2 separate regions of the Homo sapiens genome follow, and region 2 is linked to region 1. A link means that fine-mapping ties the variant in region 1 to the expression of a gene that starts in the linked region. Tissue or cell type: tibial artery. Region 1 holds a variant in brackets; the other region holds the start of a gene. All regions are shown on one strand. Distances are between the middles of the regions.

Region 1 (10,872 bases):
TAGACAATGGTGCCAAGAACACACATTGGGGAAAGGACAGTCTCTTCAATAAATGGTGTTTTAAAAAACTGATATCCATATGCAGAAGAATGACACTAGACCCCTCTCATCAAATACAAAAATCAAATAAAAATAGATTAATGACTTAAATATAAGACCTTAAACTATGAAACTGCCAAAAGAAAACACTGGGGAAGTTTCCGAGAAATTGGTCTGGTCAAAGGTTTATTGTGTAATACCCCACAAGAACAGGCAACCAAAGCAAAAACAGGCAAATGGGATCACATCAAGTTCATAAGTTTCTGCACAGCAAAGGAAACAATACAAAAGTGAAGAGATAATCCATAGAATTGGAGAAAATATTTTCAAACTATCCATCTAGCAAGGAATTAATAACCAGAATATACAAGGAGCTCAAACAACTCTATAGGAAAAAATCTAATAATCTATGAATGGGCAAAAATCTGAATAGACACTTCTCAAAAGAAGACCTACAAATGGCAAACAGATACATGAAAACATGCTCAACATCACTGATCACTGGAAAAATGCAAATGAAAACTACAATGAGATAGCACCTCACCACAGTTAAAACTGGTTTTATTCAAAAGACAGGCAATATTAAATGCTGATGAGGATGTGGAGAAAAGAGGCTTCTTGCACACTGTTGGTGAAATGTAAATTAGTACAGCCACTATAGACAATAGTATGGAGGTCTCTCAAAAAACTAAAAATAGAACTACCATATGATCTGGCAATCCCACTGCTGGGTATATACCCAAAATAAAGGACATTAATATATCAAAGAGATATCTACACTCCTGTGTTTATTGCAGCACTACTCACAATAGCCAAGATTTGAAAGCAACCTAAGTATTCATCAACAGATGAATGGATAAAGAAAATGTGGTACACATACATATTCCCAAGGTAGTATTATTCTGCCATTAAAAGAATGAGACGCAGTCATTTGCAATAACATGGATGAAACTGGAGGATATTATATTAAATAAAATAACCCAGACCCAGAAACACATGCTTTTTGTGTTCTCACTTACTGTGGGAACTAAAATTTAAAACATTGAACTCATGGAGATAAAGTAGAACGATGGTTACCAGAGGCTAGGAAGGATGCGCGGGCAGGAAACGGGGATCGTTAAGGGGTACAAAAATATAGTTAAATAGAATAAAGAAGAACGAGTATTTGAGTGCACAACAGGTTGAGCAAACAATAATTTATTGTACATTTTAAAATAATTTAAAAAATAGAATGGAAATGTTTGTAATACAAATGATAAATGCTTGAGGTGATGGATACCCCATTTACTCTGATGTAATTATTACACATGGTATGTCTGTATTAAATTATTTCATGTACCCCATAAATATGTACACTATGTACCCATAAAAATTAAAAAGAAAACATGTATATGAATATATGTGGATAGAAAGACATTTAGCAGAAGTCTTCAGAGAAGTTTCTGTAATGAATACATGTTGTTGCATTGTTTAATGAAGAAAAAAGCACATGATAGAAAAAAGGCTTTGTGACATAATAGAAGCAACTCTAGATTTGGTGTCAGGTGACTGGGTTCTAAAGCAGCTCCTCAGTAATTTGATATGGTGACTAAACTACTCTGGTCCTTCTTTCCTTATCTATAATATGGAATTAAACTAACTAATCTCTGAGGTCTCTCCCAGTACCAAAGTTTCTTGGGACCATATTTCTTTGGACTTCTTGGTAAAGTTTTTAAGGGTTTGTAAGCCTCATGATCTCAACTCAGGAATCTAAGGAAACACACCATGAACGATTTCTCTGCACATTAGCTGGTGGGACATTCCCCATCGATGGCTCTAATGCTAACTCTAACTTGGCTTGATCCTGTTTTCATGATACTGAAATGGAGGGACACAGATAAGATGTGGACTTTGCTTTGTCTGGTTGCATTGTCCTAATGTCCTAGAGAGAGGAGATAGTATATAGTAAAAAGAACATGGATGGCAGGATTTGAATTCTTACCCTAACAATTACTGATTCCAAGGAATGTTTTACACATCAGAAAAAAACAAAAATCTACTGGACAAGAGTTTTTGTGAGCTCCAAATTCATGAAGGCAGGTAAACTGCATAGAACACAATAAGCACTAGAAAAAAAAGTACAGTAATTTTCTTTTCTTCTTCTTCCTTTCACAAATGACATATTCTAGAATCAGGTTGATTCTGTGAAAAACGGGAAAAGAGAGATAAGTTTTCTTCATAATTGTCCTAGGAGCTGAAGGTAATCTTGTTCTACTCAACAGTTACGTTATAGACAGCTGATAAATTGTAACTTACAATGAATATGTTGTCATAGCGGTAAAAAAAATAAATGCAAGTTAAGCAGTAAGAGAGAGGAAACAAGGATTTAATTTTGAGATCAATTTGGAACACAATTAAGGTGATGTAGGAATCTAATATTTCATTTGTGTCTAATAAAATACCTAGGCTTGCTAGTGATTATATGCAGAGTCATTTCCTGTCCCCTCTAATAGATAATAGCTCCGACACTGTGTCCTTTAACAAAGTGTCAAAGAAACAGTTCAATGTACTCCAAGAGGAAAACAAATCACACCCTGCCAGACCTACATTATTTTGAGATTCTGCCCACTGAAGTAGGAACATATCCTAACCTTTTTTTTTTTTTAACTCAAGAAATCTGATGGTATCTTGGGAAAAAAGGTTATAGCTTTATCCTGAAAACTAATTCCATTATTTAGAAAGGACATCATGCAAACGAATGTTGATGCATAACGGGGAACAAATGATAAGGCCTCTTAAGACCTCAAAAAACTTAGGTTTTTATAGTGAGGAATTCAAATGGTTAGTCAAAGAGATTATCTCCTAAATGTCCGTCTGTTCCCTGATCCCATTCTGATTTCTGATTACCTTCAAATGCTGTAAAGCTACAGTTTTCCAACTATGTGCCAAAGCACCTCAAGGTGATGCAGAAAATCCATAGAGTACTGTGAGATGCTTTATATTTTTAAGGGAAACACAGTGGTCTTTAGCACCTGTCAGATGTTCCATGAATTAATTACAAGCTGAAGGTAATTCGCAGATTGTATACCATTCCCCTGCATGCCATCATATCTTTTAGAAGCTGGGTTTTTCACAGATTATGTAATAAAAAGCAAGGACTGCACAAAAAGTAATGTGGAACAGGAAGTGAGGGTAGTGGTGTCCAAACTGACTCCGAGGTTTGAGAAGCTGTGCAGTGCCTAATGAGTGCACTCTTCTCATTAGGAAGTAATTGTGATTATTCAAAAATGACATAAAATATTTTCTCTCTAAATTTATGTGGATTATTTTAAGCCGCTACTATTAATAATTTGCTAGGACATAAATACTTATTAAGTTGTTTGGACCTAACTATTTACTGTACTGAAGTGTCAGATATTTCTTTTGGCCTGGGATGCTGTGGAATAATATACACCAAGGGCCACCTGAACAGAGAAAGTTTGGTAACTCTGCCTTGCAGCTGTCTTCCACCTTGTCAAGATAGCACAGGTCAATGTTTTGTCTTCAACGGCATAGGTACAACAATAAACTGCCTGAGAAGGCTGGGAAGTTTGTACTCCCTTTCATTAAAGCAGAGAAAGCGAAAATAAATTTTCAGTCATTAAGGTCTTTGCAACCTACTGAGAAATGTCTGCATGCCTCATGTTAAACATTTGTCACCTGAGGACAGCCATCTGTTCTTTACAATTTTCATTTGGCCATAACCTCCTCTCCTCTTGCCAAAAGTATTAGAAGGTTGATGGCTTGCTATACAAAATCAGGATGCTTTGGAATTGCCTATTGGATGTGCTTATTTGTAGCAACATTTATTTTATCTGACCTACTTTCTGCATTTCTCAAAAGATTCACATCTCATAAACATACTATTTAATTTCTAATAGTGTTCCAAATTGCAAGCACCCTAAAACAATTATTTCATTCTTCTGCTTAAATTAGAAAGCTGGAAAGTAAGTATTCAGACATTATCACTTACTCACATAAGACATGGCACAGAAACCCCAATCTACAATTGCTTACAAAAGATTCCAAAGAATATGTTTGAAGACTTCTCTCTCTTTCCTCTACACTCTCTCTCTTTGGTGGAACTCATTCCACCTCATTGCTAGCATGGGATAATATCTATCAGGTGGCTCCCAAATTTCTGTCTTCTCCTTCTGAATTGTAGCAACACATTTCAAATTGCCCGGATATTTTACAGGCCCCACAAACATCATGTGCCCAAAAATGTACTTACTAGCTTTCCTTTTATACTGCTTTTTCTCCTGCCTTTGTTTTTATGGCCATTTCATAGTCCAAATCTGTTACCTTTTACTACTCCTTCTTCCTTGTCCACAGCAACCAATTGGTTGTCAAGTCTTAGCAATTTATCTCTTCCACTCATCCTCTGCTCCCACTGCAGCTTCCCTGGTTCAGGCCATTAATCTCTTCTTACTCTAGTGCATTCTTTGCAAAACAGCTAGAATGATCTTTACAAGATTCAAATAGGCTCATGTAAGCTCCAGACTTTGGTTTTGTATAATTTGACCCCTGCTTGTTTTACAAGTTTCATCTCAAGCTTCTTATCATCTCCACTAAGAGCTGTGGCCTTTTTTTTGGCTTCTCAACTATTTGTAGCTCCTCCCCAACTCAGAGCCAATATAATGCTATTCCCTCTACCTAAAAAGTTCCTACTTTGGCCTCCCTCCCCTTCTTAAAATTTGGGATCACTTTAGGCTCAAATTGATCTTCACCTAAATTCTATTCTTTTCTGGAGGAATTTTGATATGAGGAACCATATCTGCTGCCAGCCACTACTGCTCCCATTCCAACTCCAGGACCAAAAAAAAAAAAAAAGCTGTCAATTTAAGTTGCGCACAAGCTGGCTCCAAATTTGGAGGACACAACAGCCTAAATAAATATAAAACTAAGGTGGTGCAATGACCTGTGTTAGCCACAATAGTGAAAAACTCAAGTGTGTATTGATCATAAGAAAAAAATCTTAAAAAGTAGTTGAAGAAGCCATGAGCAAAATCCTTTATTAGTTTTAAGTGGGAAAATCTTTTTTACCATGATTTACAACTTAGAAACCAAAAAAGAAAATATTAATATATTCTCAGAAAATATTTGCTTTGTATGTACCATAATGTATATTCAAGTGTCTACCTATTTATTCAATCATTCAATACGTATTTATTGAATCTCTGCTATGTTCTAGGCTTTGTGTCAGCCGCAGAATTGGCCCATCTTGAGGCAAGGGGGCTGGTCTTCCTCATTCTAATATCAGCCAGTGATACACTGTGGGTTTTTCCCAGGTTGAAAGGTGCAAGTGTTAGGGCCGGGCACGGTGGCTCATGCCTGTAATCCCAGCACTTTGAGAGGCCGAGGCAGGTGGATCACGAGGTCAGGAGATCGAGACCATCCTGGCTAACACAGTGAAACCCCGTCTCTACTAAAAAAATACAAAAAAAAAATTAGCCAAGCGTGGTGGCGGGTGCCTGTAGTCCCAGCTACTTGGGAGGCTGAGGCAGGAGAATGGCATGAACCCGGGAGGCAGAGCTTGTAGTGAGCAGAGATCGTGCCACTGCACTCCAGCCTGGGAGACAGTGAGACTCTATCTCAAAAAAAAAAAAAAAAAAAAAAGGTGCAAGAAGGTTCAAGTGTAACTTCCCAAACAAGAAGCTCTTGTTTCCCCAAAGTCAGTACTTAAAGAAGACTAAGACTATGAGCTCTTAGCAGTCAGTACACACCAGCTGTGGGGTAGGCACACCAGCCTCGTAAAGGGTATATAGGATACCAACAACTTTTACTTCAAAGTAAAAATAAAATAATTTTAATCTTGGAAGCCCAAAATGGTACAACTCTCTCTAGGCATGGGTCTGATTAACACAAGCATTGTTGTAGGAGTGGACAAGGATGTATTATGTTGCAGATAACTAGTTTTAACAGTGACATAGTGTGACAACACCAGAAGTAACGGTATCCTCAAATTGGGGCCAACTATTTAATGGATTGATCTGTTCCTACCATTGCTTTTCCTTGAGGCATTTGAAAGAAAGATTCGCTTTCTTGAATTGAGTGAGCCAGGTCTTGATAGATTTAGGGAACAGAAAGGGATAACAAACCTTTTAGAAATCTATTATTTGAAGAGTACAAATGATTGCATTTTTAAAAATTAGATATGTGACCATACGTGAACCCATAAGCTAGCGAAGAGCACTTACAAAGTATGGGTTGGAGAGGAGAAGGTTATGGGTAGGTGCAGGAGATGCACCCTAAATCTCTGTTTCTCCCCTCTAAGTGGGGCTGAGAGTTAATAACTTTGGAAATATATAATTATGCAGTGTATGAAGCAAACATTTATAATTAAATGCATAACTGTTTTATCAAACAGTCAATTTAAAGTGCTCTTTTGTGTTAGAGAGAAATAATGTTTTCTATTATTCCTCAATAAATACAAGATGGATACAGGTTGCCATTGTTTCGTTAAGTGAAAAGCCTTCTTTAACTAAAAATCTCTTCTACAACTTCTTTATTCTCAGTAGTAGTGTTTTGTGCAAAATGGCTTTACTCAAAACTCTTAGGAAAAAAAATATTAAAATTCGACACAAGAGAAGTCTTTTTCGTATTCACTTCTTCAAACTCCTTTCCTATCTCATTATTGCCAAACACGAAAAAAAATCTGAAATGATGTGGAGAATTTAAGCAGGCAGCAATTTATCAGAAAGTGCAGGAGCAT[A/G]CATTTAAAATGCTCATCTTCAAGAAAAAGAAGGAACAAATTTTTTAAAAATGACTTTATGTCAAACAAAATAATCAATATCTGGTTTTTAAAGAAGCAATTCCGAGCGAAAATAAAATCATTCACCCTTGTAGCTTTAAACAACAAATTTTTATGCATAAGGAGAAAGGGGCATTTTCTAGAGAACTTAAAAAAAAATAAGTGGAAATTACTCATGGTCTATTATTTTAAAAGACTTGTTTCATGAAAATGAAATAATGCCCCATTCCTAATGCCCCAAAACCTTAAATAATTTCTCACAGAGTTTACTAAATAGGCAAAACAGAAGCACGTTTTAGCCAACAAAACTTTTAAAAGGGAGTGTGTCTGCGTTTCATAAAGTATTATTTCACTTGAAGATCTCATACAGGCAACATGCCAATGGAGTTGTTTAAATAAGCTTTCAAAAACTACAGGCAATAAGAAAAGATACAAACTGTTTTCTTTAAAGGACATAAGGTGAAATATAAAGAGGGAAAAGTCAACCTTTTATAATCACCACTACTAGCCTTTACTTTGTGTCCCCTAAACCTCTGATTTAGCCTTATTTGGTGTTTTGAAAGACTACAGTCTCTTAAGAGACAAAGATACTCATAGCATTCGCTAAAGCAAGCTGCTAAATTTCTTGCATCTAAAAGCATTTCCATATATGCTCAGATGAAAACCCTGCCTGTTGGTTCTCTTAATCATGTTTTTCAGCACACTGACTCCGGAAATGTACAGTCTAGCCCTCGGGACGAGAGCAAAGCTCACATTTACTCACCAATTATTCAAGATTCCTTTTACTGCAGCATGTGTTCACTTTCTCCCTTTTGTGCATAAAAATGTGTTTGTAAAAATTACTTTGGAGCAACTGAACCACTGAATGAAGTTCAGAAGCAGGAAGCTGAAAACACAGATCTGAGGCTCAGATACATATAAATGAGTAATTCTACTATCTAAAGTTCACCATTAAAATTAGGGTGAGGCAGATAATCTTGTTTGTACCAGATAAGACAGCAGAACAGTAAACGACGGATAGAAGGAATGTTTGTACACTTATGAATGAAAAGAGTGATGAAACGGAATAAGAAGCAAAGTTACATGGTAAACCAAGAAACGATTTATAGAACAAGACTGTGAACACGGTATTCTAGAAAAGTGATCTATCAGGTGACAGTCGCTGCTGTGTGTGTTATCAAGAGATTTCCAAGTTGTAAATCCACCTACACGGAAAAAACACGGCAAGAAATACATCTGTGTTTAGTGGGAAGGAGAGCATTGCACAGTCAATCATCTTGTGTTTAACATGCTGGTTCGGAATCAAAATTTCCTTTAAAAATTGTTTATTCTTTCACTAATTTGCAGCTGAAGCACAATAATCATGCCACTGGTACTCAGTAGGAAGATTGCACACCTGGGGGACCTGTTCAAGATAACAACTCAGAAGACAGGGTGGCGAGAACATGTATCTAGGGACCTCAGCCAAGGATGCTAAATATAAAGGACAAGGTTCGTTTAGGAGAAAGAATCCCTTAAAAAAAATGTTATTTTAAAAGAGATGTTGCTTCCACACTATGAGCAAGTCGTTTTCTCTGTCTAGCAGGAAGTTGAAAATACAGATCGGAGGCTCAGCACATATATATGTGGCACTCTTCAATGTAAAGGACACAGTTGAAACATGGAGTGAAATAGATACCCTCATTTGCTTCATGCAACATTCATTCTGACACGTATTATGTTAGTCCTCTTGTACCGTAGATGAAAAACCTAACAAAGCCATTTTCCAGGCACGTTTCCAAGTAGAGCTCTACATGTGGCCTGGTCCCATCAAGTCTTGTGTGAGTTGAATGTGAAAGTGAGCAACAAAGGCAGCTGGCAGTCACAAGGACAAGTATTTCCAGATGGGCAGGTGTGGTGGCAGAGGCCCCTGGTTCTTCTGGAATAGCTGTGGCAGTTTCTAGCCTCCCCTGCCTAGCATCAGGAATCTACTGATAAGCCACGGTGACTGTGGTTTCCACTGGACTTCTCTGCTGGCTGCATTGCTGCTGGTTTTATATCTCGGCCTAGTTCCCTGAAGTTCCTGTGAGTTTCCCCATGTTTTATGAGTCTCTTTATGTTTACATTATGCTTACATAAGATTTTATGGTTTGCAACTAGGAGTAAATTACCTAAGGCAACAGAAAAATAAGAGATCCAAGGTAAAGGCATTGGACAAATTGGGGGGAAAAAAAACATATCCAAGAGGAGATGGTGAAACAAGAGAGCACAGGGTCCTTGTTCTACCCCCAGGTATGATACAAGTTTATATACTATTCTGACATTAGAAAAGAGATGAATGTCAGCCCTAGTTGGTCTTTGGCCAGGGTGTCTCATCCCGCTACAACCTCTCTCTCTCTCTCCCTTGCTTGGCTCAGGAAAAGACATTCTACACAGCTATCTATAAGGTCACATCTGGTATTGGGGGTATAATTTGCTACTGATAATATCAGATTTGGCTACCCCTGCTGATTGCAAGGTCTCTGCCCTCTGTGACCTCCTGGTCCTAAACCCAGTTTTCTTCTCTTTCACTGCCCCTCTCAGCATTTCCAAGCCTTTTGTAGGCCCAGAAATTCTCAGGTGCTTCTTCCACCCTTCAAAGCCACCCTCAAATCCATATCCCAGAAACCTCTCACTGCCCCTGCTACCATGCCATGTGGAATGCAGAGCCATGTCAAACTGGGGACTCTCTGGAGACTTGTCATCTCGGCAGAAAATGGTCAGGAGTGAGCGCCAGACCTGATATTCTGTTTGAGTGCTAGTGATAATTCCATTGTCCTCACCCCTCCCCTTTCCAGAATTTTAACAGATGCTAAAAAGTCTAGTTTGAAGAATTCTGATATATTTCCAGTTGGGAGTGTAAATTATTGCCACCTCTATGAAGGGTAATTTGGCAATATTTAACAAATTTTAAATACACATGGCCTTAAACAGCAAGCCCAACTTTAGGAACTTATACTACAAATAAAATCATGTTCTCACAAAATGGCCTTTTTATGAGGTTATTCATTGTGAGACTGTTTGTAATAGTGAAAGACTGGATAAATCAAATGTCCATCAATACGAGATTAGTTAAATAAAAATTGTAGTGAATTCATACAACAGAATATTCTCCTGATTCTCCAATAACATTGGTTGTCTGTGCAGAAAAGTAGGTGAATAAAGTTCAGAAGAGGAAAGGAGAATTTTCACCAGATATTCTTTTATACTTCTTGAATTTTGAACCATGTGAATACTATAAATACTTGTACATGCATTTTTAATCTTAAAAAATACATTTAATTTTTAAAAATCTACCTTTTTCCTTAAATCTTATATAAAAATATATCATTATATTTAAAAATTACTCTATACTCTAAAAAGCAATTACTTTTTTGTTCTTTGGATTTTCTATATTCTTCCTAAAGCTAAGATTGCTTCAGCTTTAATGATAGAAGGGCTTTAGGTCAAAGAGAAGCAATCTTAGTTCTCCAGAATAAGCAATAACTGTTGACTAGAATTTGAAATATATCTATATAATGTTTTCAAAAAATGCCATCTCTCTAAACACAGTCAATAGTTGGAATTTTCATCATTCCTCACTTAGATTTTTGCGTGTTGACTTTTTTCCTTTGTTCATCTCCATGTTTACATTAAAACATTCTAAACATGTCATTCTATAGTTTTGTGTAGATTCCGTAAAATTATATCCCTTGCATGTAAAATAACAACCATGGGCCGGGTGTGCTGGCTCACGCCTGTAATACCAGCACTTTGGGAGACCAAGGTGGGCAGATCACGAGGTCAGGAGTTTGAGATCAGCCTGGCCAACATGGTGAAACCCCGTCTCTACTAAAAATGCAAAAGTTAGACAGGCGTGATGGCGGGTGCCTGTAATCCCAGCTACTCAGGAGGCTGGGGCAGGAGAATCGCTTGAACCCAGGAGGCAGAGGTTGCAGTGAGCCGAGACTGTGTTATTGCACTCCAGCCTGGGCGACAGAGTGAGACTCCATCTCAAAATAAATAAATAAACAAAATAACAACCACGAACCAATCTTTTGGCG
Region 2 (10,872 bases), 120 kb after region 1:
CAATCCCAATACTAGGTATATACCCAAAGGGAAATAAATAATTATACAAAAAAGATACCTGCACTTGTATGTTTATTGCAGCACTATTCACAACAGCAAAGATATGGAATCAACCTAAGCGTCCATCAACAGAGAACTGGTAAAGAAAATGTGGTATATATACACCATGGAATACTACTCAGCCGTAACAAGGAATGAAATCATGTCTTTTGCAGCAACATGGATGGACCTGGAGGCCATTATCCTAAGGGAAATAACTCAGAAAAAGAAAAGTCGAAGATAGCATGTTCTCATTTACAAGTGGGAGCTATACAACGGGCACACATGGACATAGAGAGTGGAAGTGGAGACTACAAAAGGTGGGAGGCTAGCAGGGGGTGAGAGTTGGAAATTTTCCTGTGGGGTAAACATGTCCATTCTTTGGGTGCACTGAAAGCCCAGACTTCACCACAACTCAATATATGCATGTGAGAAATCCACACTTGTAACTCTGCACTTCTACACGTCACATTTGTGACCTTTTTTTAAAATTTTAAATAGTTGTAACATATTCATCTGGAATAGGAACATATAAACCTTACATAAACTTTTTCTGGATGGTTTCTCCTTATCCCTGGAAGTCCAAAAGCATTGCAATACTGTGTTTTAGGAATGTCAGGCTCTTTGCCTCTACACTAAATGCCTTTTATAAAAATTTAAATAGTTATATCTCTCTCCCAGATCTCACAGCACATAATTATTACCTTAGCAGTCACACCCTCTCCTAATCTGATATGATCCAGAACAGAGTTAATCAGTAACCGCAGTCCAAGTTTAAATTGTCAAGGAAGGTCCTTTCTTCTGATTAAAGTACACTGGATGTTTGCATATTCCTTGATGTTCATTTAAGGTACAATAAAAGGAGGTGGTTAGCTACATAAACAAATTCTGCCAATTTCAAAATTTGAAATTACCCATGACAAACCTGGCAAGAGTAAAAGGGATAAAGCAGCTTACCTCAAAGAGGGATTCTGATAACAGCTAACTTTTAACGAGCAGTACCTACTATATGCCAAGTATGTGCTAAGAGCTCTACAGTCTATCATCTTCATTAATCCTCACAATACCTCTATAAAATAGGTTATTCTAATCTCCACTTTATAAATAAGAAAAACGTCAAGGTTCACACAAAAGGTTGTAGAACTAGAACTGAATTACAGTCTAGAAACCAGTCTGCTTTTAATCACATACTCAGATAAAAAATTCAAGTGTCTCTGGGGCCAAACAAGTAAAGTAAATGCACGGAAAGGCTCAGTTTTAAGATTTTTTATAGAGGTGTGGCTCTCAACCTTGGCTGCACACAGGAATCACCAGGGGAGCTTTAAAGACTTTTGAAGCCTGGGTTCCACCCCCCATAGACTGTTATTTAATTGGTCTGGGAGCCACCAGGTGATACTAATGGGCAGTCTAGACTGAGAAACACTGCCTATAGATACAGACAATGGAGCATGGCTCACTTGAAAGCAGTTTAAAAACTTTAAAGGTTATATAAACACTGTGCTGGCCAAAGATTGTTATTACCTTTGCCACCAGTATGTGACCTCTGTCCCACTCCTCAGTATAATTAAGGTGCCAGTATGGGAGATAAATAGATGACTGATTGCTAAGAGGGATAGATAAACAGGCAGACATAGATATTTTTATAGTGGAAGGGGTTTGCCTAGTCTCTGACCTTTCTGCATGCCATCCCCACCATCTTCTAGTTATGGGGCTCTTCTACAATAAAACTTGTTAACTTGGGGTTACAAGTAACCCACTTTCAAAGGAATCTATGGAGTATAATCTATTCTTAAACTGAAGGTGACCTAAATACGCTCACTTAACGAACGCACATCATCAGATTATAGGTCTAAACTACTGAAATTTTTTCAAGAGTCATTTTTAAAAAGACCACTCTTTTTAAAGTCATTAATTCTGATCTTAATCCAAGCCAGGTCAAGCAATCCCACCTAACTAAACAAGTATTAAGACTGGAGAGCCTGATGTCCTAAAAGCCCATCTATGCAGGTGGTACACAGTGCTGTTGAGTAAAATGTCATTTGTCTTGGAAAAGGGAAGCAAAAGTTGCATACCACCAGAAAATGTACATTAAATGGCTTACACATGGGAAATCCAAAATAAATGCTACTGAAGTCAAAAGTGAATCCACAAAAAACAAAAACAAACAAAAAAATACTTTAGCCTGCTTGTGAAATAATTATTCATGCACAATTATACTGCAAGTTTTGTAGCACCATAATTAGAGAGGAAATGACAAAAGAATAAATTAAGAAAGGGACTTTGAAGCCACTTATTCAAATTAGGTAGAACATTTCCATCTGCTGCAAAACAAAAGTTGTATATTTTAATGATCCTGTATTACCATTTACCACCTCTCTTCCCCACTACCACCACCACCACTAAAAAAAGAAAAGGCAAATTAGAAAAGAAATTTCTAAAATTTCAAAATGAAATACTGCAAATAAAGGCCATTATTCAGAAATTAGGGCCTCAGTCAACAATATCCATCGTCCATCATAGGCCGTTGAGGCAAAGGAGCTACTTGAACAAAATATTTTCTTGTTTTATTTGGCTTTCAAAAAGCAAAGACACAGAAGCAAAGTCTCAGAAAGACAAAAGTGCCTGGGATGAACTTACTCGCCACAGTTCAGAATAATTTTTGTTTGTTGTTTGAATAAACATGCATTGATTCCCCTAATGAGTGTCAGGCACAGTGTGGTGCTGAGGAGGTAATGGTGAAAATGACAGCCTTTGCCCTCATGGGACTCCTAAGAGACCAAGGCACACACAACCTCATATAATCCACCATACATGCCCCTTCCAGCCATGTTTATGAAAATCTAGTCCTGTTATACTATTAGACGGTAAATTTTTCCCTTGGTCTGACTCCATGGAACTTCACAGGGAAGCAACTGATACCTTGTAAATAAATAAGTAAACAAATATCCATATTCTCATACCAACAATAACTCATGGGTAAATTTCAATGAGTTTAAAGAAAATTTTGTGAACCTAAGAGCGTATCAAAACGGGTTTTACTTTTGAACCAAGCCGAGCCATATATTTTCATTGCCTGTGGCTATGCAGCGTCAGTAAGCTAAAAATACTTTTCTTTCTTCTAAGTTGGGAAGAGCAAGTTAAGTCCAAACAATCGGATGTGTATCATTTTCTCTCATCTTAAATTTTTTACTAGAAAACACTCAAAATAACTGAAGCAAAGAAGAGGCATCTGTTTCATATCTGCACACACATACACAGAAACATCCCTCTAGCTTGCATCTATCTACCTAGCAATATTAAACAAGCTATATTTGCATCATCAGCAAAGTCTGCCAACATTTCACCACTTACAGCTATTTATTATTATTTTTTGGTTGGGGAGAAAGCTGCATAAGTATTGAAAACTAACCACAAGTAAAAGCTTGCAAAAAAAATATGTATAGGATACGTCCTTAACAAGAGGACATGGTGCTGACTTTGAATTTACGTTAAAAGTAAATTCAAATTCAAATTCTGAATTTACATTTAAAGTAAATTATGTTTGTGAAAATTACATTAAATTAGATTCTAAAATAGGATAGAAACTTTAAGTTCTTCTACAGGTCTTGCTCAAGTTGGGTTTGCTGTGCATGGCAAAGTGAAAACCTGTGTTTCTCCTCTTTGGCTTCCCGAAGCTAACTGTAACATACATGCATCTCTGTGATGAAGTAAAAGCTACTTAGGAAGACAAGTAAACCTGTTTTTAAAGAAATAAACTACTGCAGGATGGTGAATGGTATGTAGTGTGGACTTTTCCCACACATCCAGCATCTCTAAAGACATCCTATTAAATTAAAAGAATAAGAAATAAGAAACTAGCAGGTCCAGATCTAGGTTCCTTCCATTCGACTGGGCCATGACTTTAATTAAGCTGCTGGGTCATGGCTTAATTTTCCCTTGAAAAACAGCACAGTTTGAGAAATCTCTGCCAAACTCTTCATTTTTTAAGCAACTGACAAAGTCAACAAGAAAGCAAATACCTAGAATCCACGGAACAATGCTCCTCAGAGCAGGGCTGGCAGAAGCGGCGGAGGGCTACCAGTTTCCCTGCCCCGATTGCAGCTGGGCCTTTGACAAGAGCTCGGGTAAAGGACTATCTGTGCACCCGCCCACCAAACGCCCAGCGGGACGATGGGCTGGTGCTACGAAGTTCTAAACCTAACCGCTGGGAGGAAGAAGCGGGAGGATGAGAATGTCATCTCCCCTGACACTCTGGTGCCGGCAGTCCTGAAACGCTCACCTCTGACGTCCCTGAAGGTCAGAGGTGGCAACCACAGTGCCAATAGCTCACCAAAGCCACTTTTCCTGCCCGGGTGGAGGCGCGGGGCAAAGTTGGCCACCGGCTGCGCGCGTCCCGTTAGCCGTACCTTGTAACTGGGCGGAGAGGGACTCCTGGTGCTGCTGGTACTTGAGCGCCACCGCCTCGGCTTTCCGCAGCTGCGTCTGCAGCTCGTAGTAGAGCATCGCGCCGTAGAGAAAGCCGAACACGACGGTCAGCAGCAGCAGCGTCTGGAAAATCCGCTTCTGCTTTCGGGAGCACATCCCGTTTCCCATAGTCCCGCCTGGACCCAAAGCCGCGGCCGCCCCCGCCGTCTCCTCCCCTTGGTCCGAGCGAGCGTCTCAGCAGCGGCCGCCGCAGTAGGTGGCCAGACGCAGCATGAGGAGGAGATGCCAGACACAAAAGCCGGCCCGGAGGGGAAGTGGCGCCCGCTCAGCCCCCGCGCGGCGCGGGGCGCGCAGCCATCGACGCCGCCCGGGCAGCTGCAGCCAAACTTCTGCGAGGCTCGTTCTCCGCGAATGCCCGGGGCCGGGAGGAGGCCCTCCGCATACTTCAGAGCCGGCTGCCCTCGCGCCTGTCCCCAGATGCCTCCTGCCTTTTTTCCTTCTTCCCACTTTTTGGCCCCGCTGCCCCCGGGCAGTTCTTGGAGTCCCGCCCTGGCCACTCCCCGCCCTATCGCGGCGGCTCCCACTGCACGACTTTGTTGCCACCTAAGGGAGGGGGTGCGCGCCCAACAAAGGGACCAGGACTCCGGGCCGCGCCCCCGTGCGGCCTGCCCAATGGGTGGAAGGGTGGGGGCCAGCTGTCTCGGCTGGTTTTGGGGACGGCACAGCGGTGTCACTGACGGGTCGGCTGGTGCCTCTGCCGCCCCGCCACCTCCTGCCCAACTTACGTGTCACCCACGGCCCGGCTATTCTGGCCAACGGGATTCCGGGAGGAAGTCCCACTCGGCCTCCTTGCTCATTGGGCCCGTCCGAGCAGACGCTCCCTCCCTTCGGGGAGGCAGTGCCGGGCTCGATTGGATGCCGGCTTTGTCCGTCCGACCCCAGGGCCGCACCTTCCCTCCCAGTGCCGGGGCCGGCTAGGGGCTCTGTGGGCAGCGCGGCCGCCTGGCGCCGGGGTGCGCCCACGTGGAGTCGGAGAGGGTGGGAAGAGGCAGGCGGAAGGGCGAAGGGCGGGGAGCTTTGGGTGGGCGGGGGACTTGTCCGGGCCTGAGTCTGGGTGAGGTTCGGTGAACACGTGTGTGTGTGTGTGTGTGTGTGTGTGTGTGTTCCAGTTCTCGTTCGGAACGCACGTGGAGAGCGGAGTAAAATGTGTGTATGAACGAAAGAATGGATGGCAGTAACTGTGTGCACTCTGCTGAGTACACTTTCTTTCCCTGTCCAATAAACTGATGCGGCAGACACATGGGATAGCTACATAGCACAATCCCGGTAGTCAAACCAGAGATGCCATGTCGACTGCCTTACCCCATCCAGTGTACTAGCCTAGATGTGTGTGTGCCCACAGATGGCCCGGCAGGAGTCGGGAGACTGGAAGCACGCTAGACTTAATGTTCAATTGTCCACGTGGGCTGGGGAAATCGGCTTGCCATTGGCAGAGAGGAAAGAAATGGTCTCACATTTCTCCTCTAGCTGCAAATAGAATAATTTAAAAACAAATCGTACAGACTGAAATGAGTATCCATTCATTTTGTCATATGTATTTGTTTTATTGGTGGCAAAACACATCAGTTACATTTCTAAATTACATTTTAAAGGGCAACAAAGGTTCCCTATGTAAAAACTAGTACAGCACAGGAAAGGTAGTAACCACAAACCTCTTCGAAGAAATGTATACTGCATTTATTTTTTCTGTGTACTTGAGGGGAATAATTAAGGTTATGCACAAATGATAATTTTTGTTTCTGCTGTTGACCTGAATTCTAAGAAAAGTAAATTTTATCTGTCTGTATAGTGTGGTGTAATTTATGATACACTGCATAATTTTTATATTCTAACTGGACTTTAGTCGTTACCATTGCTAATGGGCCTGAGTGCTCAAAATGGGGGTAAATCTCTTTAGCTAAATGCAACAGAAAGACAGTTCCTGGTGCAAAAGTTTTTTTAGGTGGACTCTGAAATTATAGGTTGCTAAAGCCCTAAAATAAACTGAATTTATAACGATGCTACCCTGTGGCATTTATACCACTGTAAAAATAAAGTGTGTCTTGCATGTGCTTTTCCTTAATAAATAATAACTTGCGTTAAATTATTCAAAATGCTTTCGTGTGCAGATACACTGTCTCACTGATCACAGCCAGGGTGTTAGACTTTCATGTTGGTAAAGAAGCCAAAGTTTATCAAAGTGACTATGACAGCTCTAGGACCTTTTAGGTCTTGCATAAAGTTAGTTACTCAGCAAGATTAGAATCCAGATCCAAACCCTGCTCTATGTCTTTTTCTTCAATAGAAACAATGTTCTCATTCTATTAAACAAGTTACAGTAAGAAATTATATCTCCATTAACATGAGAATCTGATTGTAAAAGAAAACAGTCTAAAGGAGTTTGGGAGTTTTGTTGTGTAAATACTACATAATCTTCCTTATTATTAAATCTACCACTTTAAATTCCTCTTTTTTAGTTTGACTCTCAGAAATTAACATTGGATAATTACTGGAATCTCTTTAAAATTCCTCATAACTAAACATTCCTTACTGTTGTCAGAGTACTTTGTTAAACAAACTCTTCCTCCAAAAACACTATCCAAATTTAGGCTGGGCATGGTGGCTCACTCCTGTAATCCCAGCACTTCTGGGAGGTTAATGCGAACAGATCGCTTAAGTTTGGGAGTATGAGACCAGCCTGGGCAACATAGCAAAACCCCTCCTCTACAAAAAAAAAAATATATAAAAATTTAGCTGGGCATGGTGGCGTGCACCTATAGTCCCAGCTACTCGGGAAACTGAGTTGGGAGGATCCCTTGAGCCTGGTAGGTAGAGGTTGCAGTGAGCCAAGATCACACCACTGCACTCCAGCCTGGGCGACAGAGGTGAGACTCTGTCTCAAAATAAATAAATATATAAATAAATAAAGTTTATGGCAATAATCTTGCCCCATATTTGAAGAGAAAATTATCCTAGCCACAAAAGAAAAAGAAGTTGTATAGAGGGTTGGAAAATTATTGCTCATATATTGTACAATATGTATTTTAGAATCTTTGGAAAATTCTTATGTTTCCTGAATGTATGATTCATCTTAAACCTCTGATTCCTTTGCATCTGATTCCAGACTCCAAAGATATTCTTTGCCTAAAGCTGCTGGCTGACTCTACAGAACATAATAAATGCAGGCCATAAAACACAACTCAATATTTTAGTCATAAAATTTGAAAGACAGCAAAAATTATTACCTGAACTTATCCATTATTTCAAATTCAAGAAGGGTATGTAGAAGTACATAAAATTACTAATGGTGGTATTTTTATAATATTACATTTCCAAGGTAAAGTATGCTGCTAGTTTCCTGAAAATGTCAGTATAGAGCTTTTGAGCGGCCAACATGAGGAAGCTATCCAAGGCCTATAAAATGAATTTACATAACATTGCCTTTGGGTAGCAATTATAACATAACAGCTGTTTATACTGGTCTTGGAAGGTGTGTTGTTCATTCTATTTTATTTTTGCTTCTTTGTTATTTTAAAAATAGTATATATAATTATATTTCTATATTCCATATATTTAACAATATATTTAACTTTAAATTATAAACCCTGAAGAATTTTACTGATTTAGTATTTTATTTCTGAGGCAGGAAGAAATTAACTTAAAGATACTCAAGGTCTTACATTTGAGAAGGGCAAATATAACATTTGGGAATATTAATTCTCTCTAACTTAAGTGAATTTGTCATTTTAATCAAATTTGTTCATTTTCAAAATAAGGGAAGGAAAAAATAAAAAGTTGAGAGAGACAGCTGACGTATAATTTCTAAAAGTAAGATTTTAAATTAATAATATTTAGGATCCTAGAGTAAATAATTTCTATTATCTAAATCTTTTATTTAAATTTCTTTACTACAAATGGAACTCAATATTTTGTAATTTGTAGGAGAAATCATCACCTAAGAAAAGGTGATGAATAGTAAATAAAATTTAAAATAGCTTTTCAGTATTAATAAACTAATTTTAATCTTTTCATCTGACAATTACAAAAGTTATTTATCCTATAAAACAATCTTCACTCTATGATGTCTTCACCTTTTTGCCATTTCATCAGTTTGCTGTCCCCTAATGAATACACTTGCCTTGCTGATTGCCACTTTTACCTGACCTGTTTTGAGAGGTAAAGAAAGCTGCATTCAAGGTATTATGTCTTTTTGAACATTTTGTGAAAGATGTTTTGAGACTCCTTTTTCATAGGATTTTGATAATGACCTAGTAGTAATTGTTAGAAGATTAACAAACTAAAAAGTAGGTCTGTGGTTGAATGCATAACTGAGTAACTGAACCCCACTCAATGTATCTTTATGCCTTGTTTACATCTGTCACTACGTTGCCACCTTTGTAATTTTCAACTATATCTGAAGAGGAGGGCAGAGGAGAAAGTAGATGATTTGTTCTTATTTATAAAAATGCTTTTCAATGAGAGAAACCTTACCATCAATATCACTAAGAAATACCTTCTGAGGCCGGGTGCGGTGGCTCACGCCTGTAATCCCAGCACTTTGGGAGGCTGAGGCAGGCGGATCACGAGGTCATGAGATCGAGACCATCCTGGCCAACATGGTGAAACCCTGTCTCTACTAAAAATACAAAAATTAGCTGGGCATGGTGGCGTGTGCCTGTAGTCCCAGCTGCTCGGGAGGCTGAGGCAGGAGAATCGCTTGAACCTGGGAGGCGGAGGTTGCAGTGAGCTGAGATTGCGCCATTGCACTCCAGCCTGGCAACAGAGCGAGACTCCATCTCAAAAAAAAAATAAATAAAATAAAATAAAAATAAATAAATACCTTTTGAATACAGACTACTAATAATGGACGTGATTTAGAAGTCCCTATTTGCCACAGGATGTGTAGCTAGTCTAAAGGAAGAGGAACTATCATTTCAAACCTCTAACAACATTCTAAAGCAGGATATCTAGCCAACCCTAAACTTTTCCAAATTCTAAGGCAGTATACGAAATCATTATGAATATGTTGCTTAATGTTTGTTACAGCTAGCATATAATGAGCTAACTACCACATTTTTTTTTCAGTTTAATTTCATAGGAAGTTAGAAAGAATGGAAAGGGAGCATATGTGAGCCTCAGAAGTGAACTTCCTAAATCTTCCAATGGCTCATCCAGCTTCTCACCAACTCACTGCCTTTAATAGTCAAAGACTTTAGATAAGCAGAGATACCACAGAAAAGATCAGTGGCCAGTAAAACATGACATTTTTTAATGTCCCCTCCCCCAAAATATTATAATTTATTGGATTGATTTTTATGAAAGCTATACTTAGTTTACTCATGACCATTTTATAAAATTGGCATTACAATTTTAATATGTTATAACATATAGTAATTTTTTAATTGTGATGAGGGTGGCTGGTCATATTTATAAAGTATCCAATGCCAAGTTCTGGGTCAGAAATTCAACGTTTAATTTTAGAATTATTCCTAAGGGAAATAATAATCTGCTTCATAAATGCTATTTAAACTATAGTTTTCAGGAATATTTTGAGTCAGAACAAAATGACTACCAATAATTTTAGTTAGAAATAAAGTGGAACAAATTTTCAAACAAAATATAAGAAGAATTGAGTTATCACAGCATTAAATTCTGCCCAAATTAAAATTGTGAAATGGAAACATTTGTCTTGGATCACTCTGCTCTCTAGTTCAACTCTTCAGCTCCTGGCATCCAAAATTTTAGTTATCCCCCTTGGTTTTCCAGAATCCTAGACTATGACTATGCCTTTCTCTCCCAACCTCACCCACTCATATACACAAACTTGGACTTGCCTTCTTCAAGACAAAGTAGCCTAATCTAAAATGACTCTTCCTTTCCTTTAGCTGCTTAATCAGAGGAAAGAAAACTGGGTATGTTAACTAACAGGAAGATATTAAAACTGAATTACTAACTTAGTCTTCTACCCAACAATTTTGAGAGAAACTATTAAATGAAAAGACTGAACTCCAATGGCATAATTCTAGACTGCCTGCAGAGTAGATAAGTGACAACTGTGGCTTGACTTTTTGCTAGTTTGTCCCTGATTCTCCTGCACAATTCTAACGAGCCTTAGAAGAATTTAGAAGATGACTCAAGATGTGTAGCATCAAGGCACAAATTCCATTGAAGTTACAAATGATCTTGAAGGTCAAGAGTAAGTAACTGTTAGGACCATTAATTCTTTCATCTGTAAAATGGAAAGGATAACCATAGCTCTCCTGCAATGCTCAGAGAAAATTGCCTAAGAAATTAATCCACAACACTTGAGAAGCGAAACTTCTCACTTTACGTAAAACTCAGTGCCGTAGTGGTACTTGTCATTGTCCA

Evidence for each region. PIP is the estimated chance that this variant, and not a neighbour inherited with it, causes the effect.
Region 2: it holds the start of GOLIM4, and the variant in region 1 is fine-mapped to the expression of GOLIM4 in tibial artery (GTEx, PIP 0.91).

The regions. Positions count from the first base shown.
Region 1 is chr3:167,969,513-167,980,384 of GRCh38, forward strand. No RefSeq gene overlaps it. Among named protein-coding and RNA genes, the nearest start is that of GOLIM4, 120 kb to the right of the region's middle. The variant A/G (reference allele first, on the strand shown) is at 6,773.
Region 2 is chr3:168,090,654-168,101,525 of GRCh38, forward strand. It overlaps GOLIM4 (golgi integral membrane protein 4), which reads right to left and starts at 5,271. Exons shown (of 16, transcript NM_014498.5): 1 at 4,446-5,271. The coding sequence starts at 4,632. RefSeq lists silencers at 5,047-5,096, 5,387-5,626 and enhancers at 5,298-5,799, 5,997-6,046.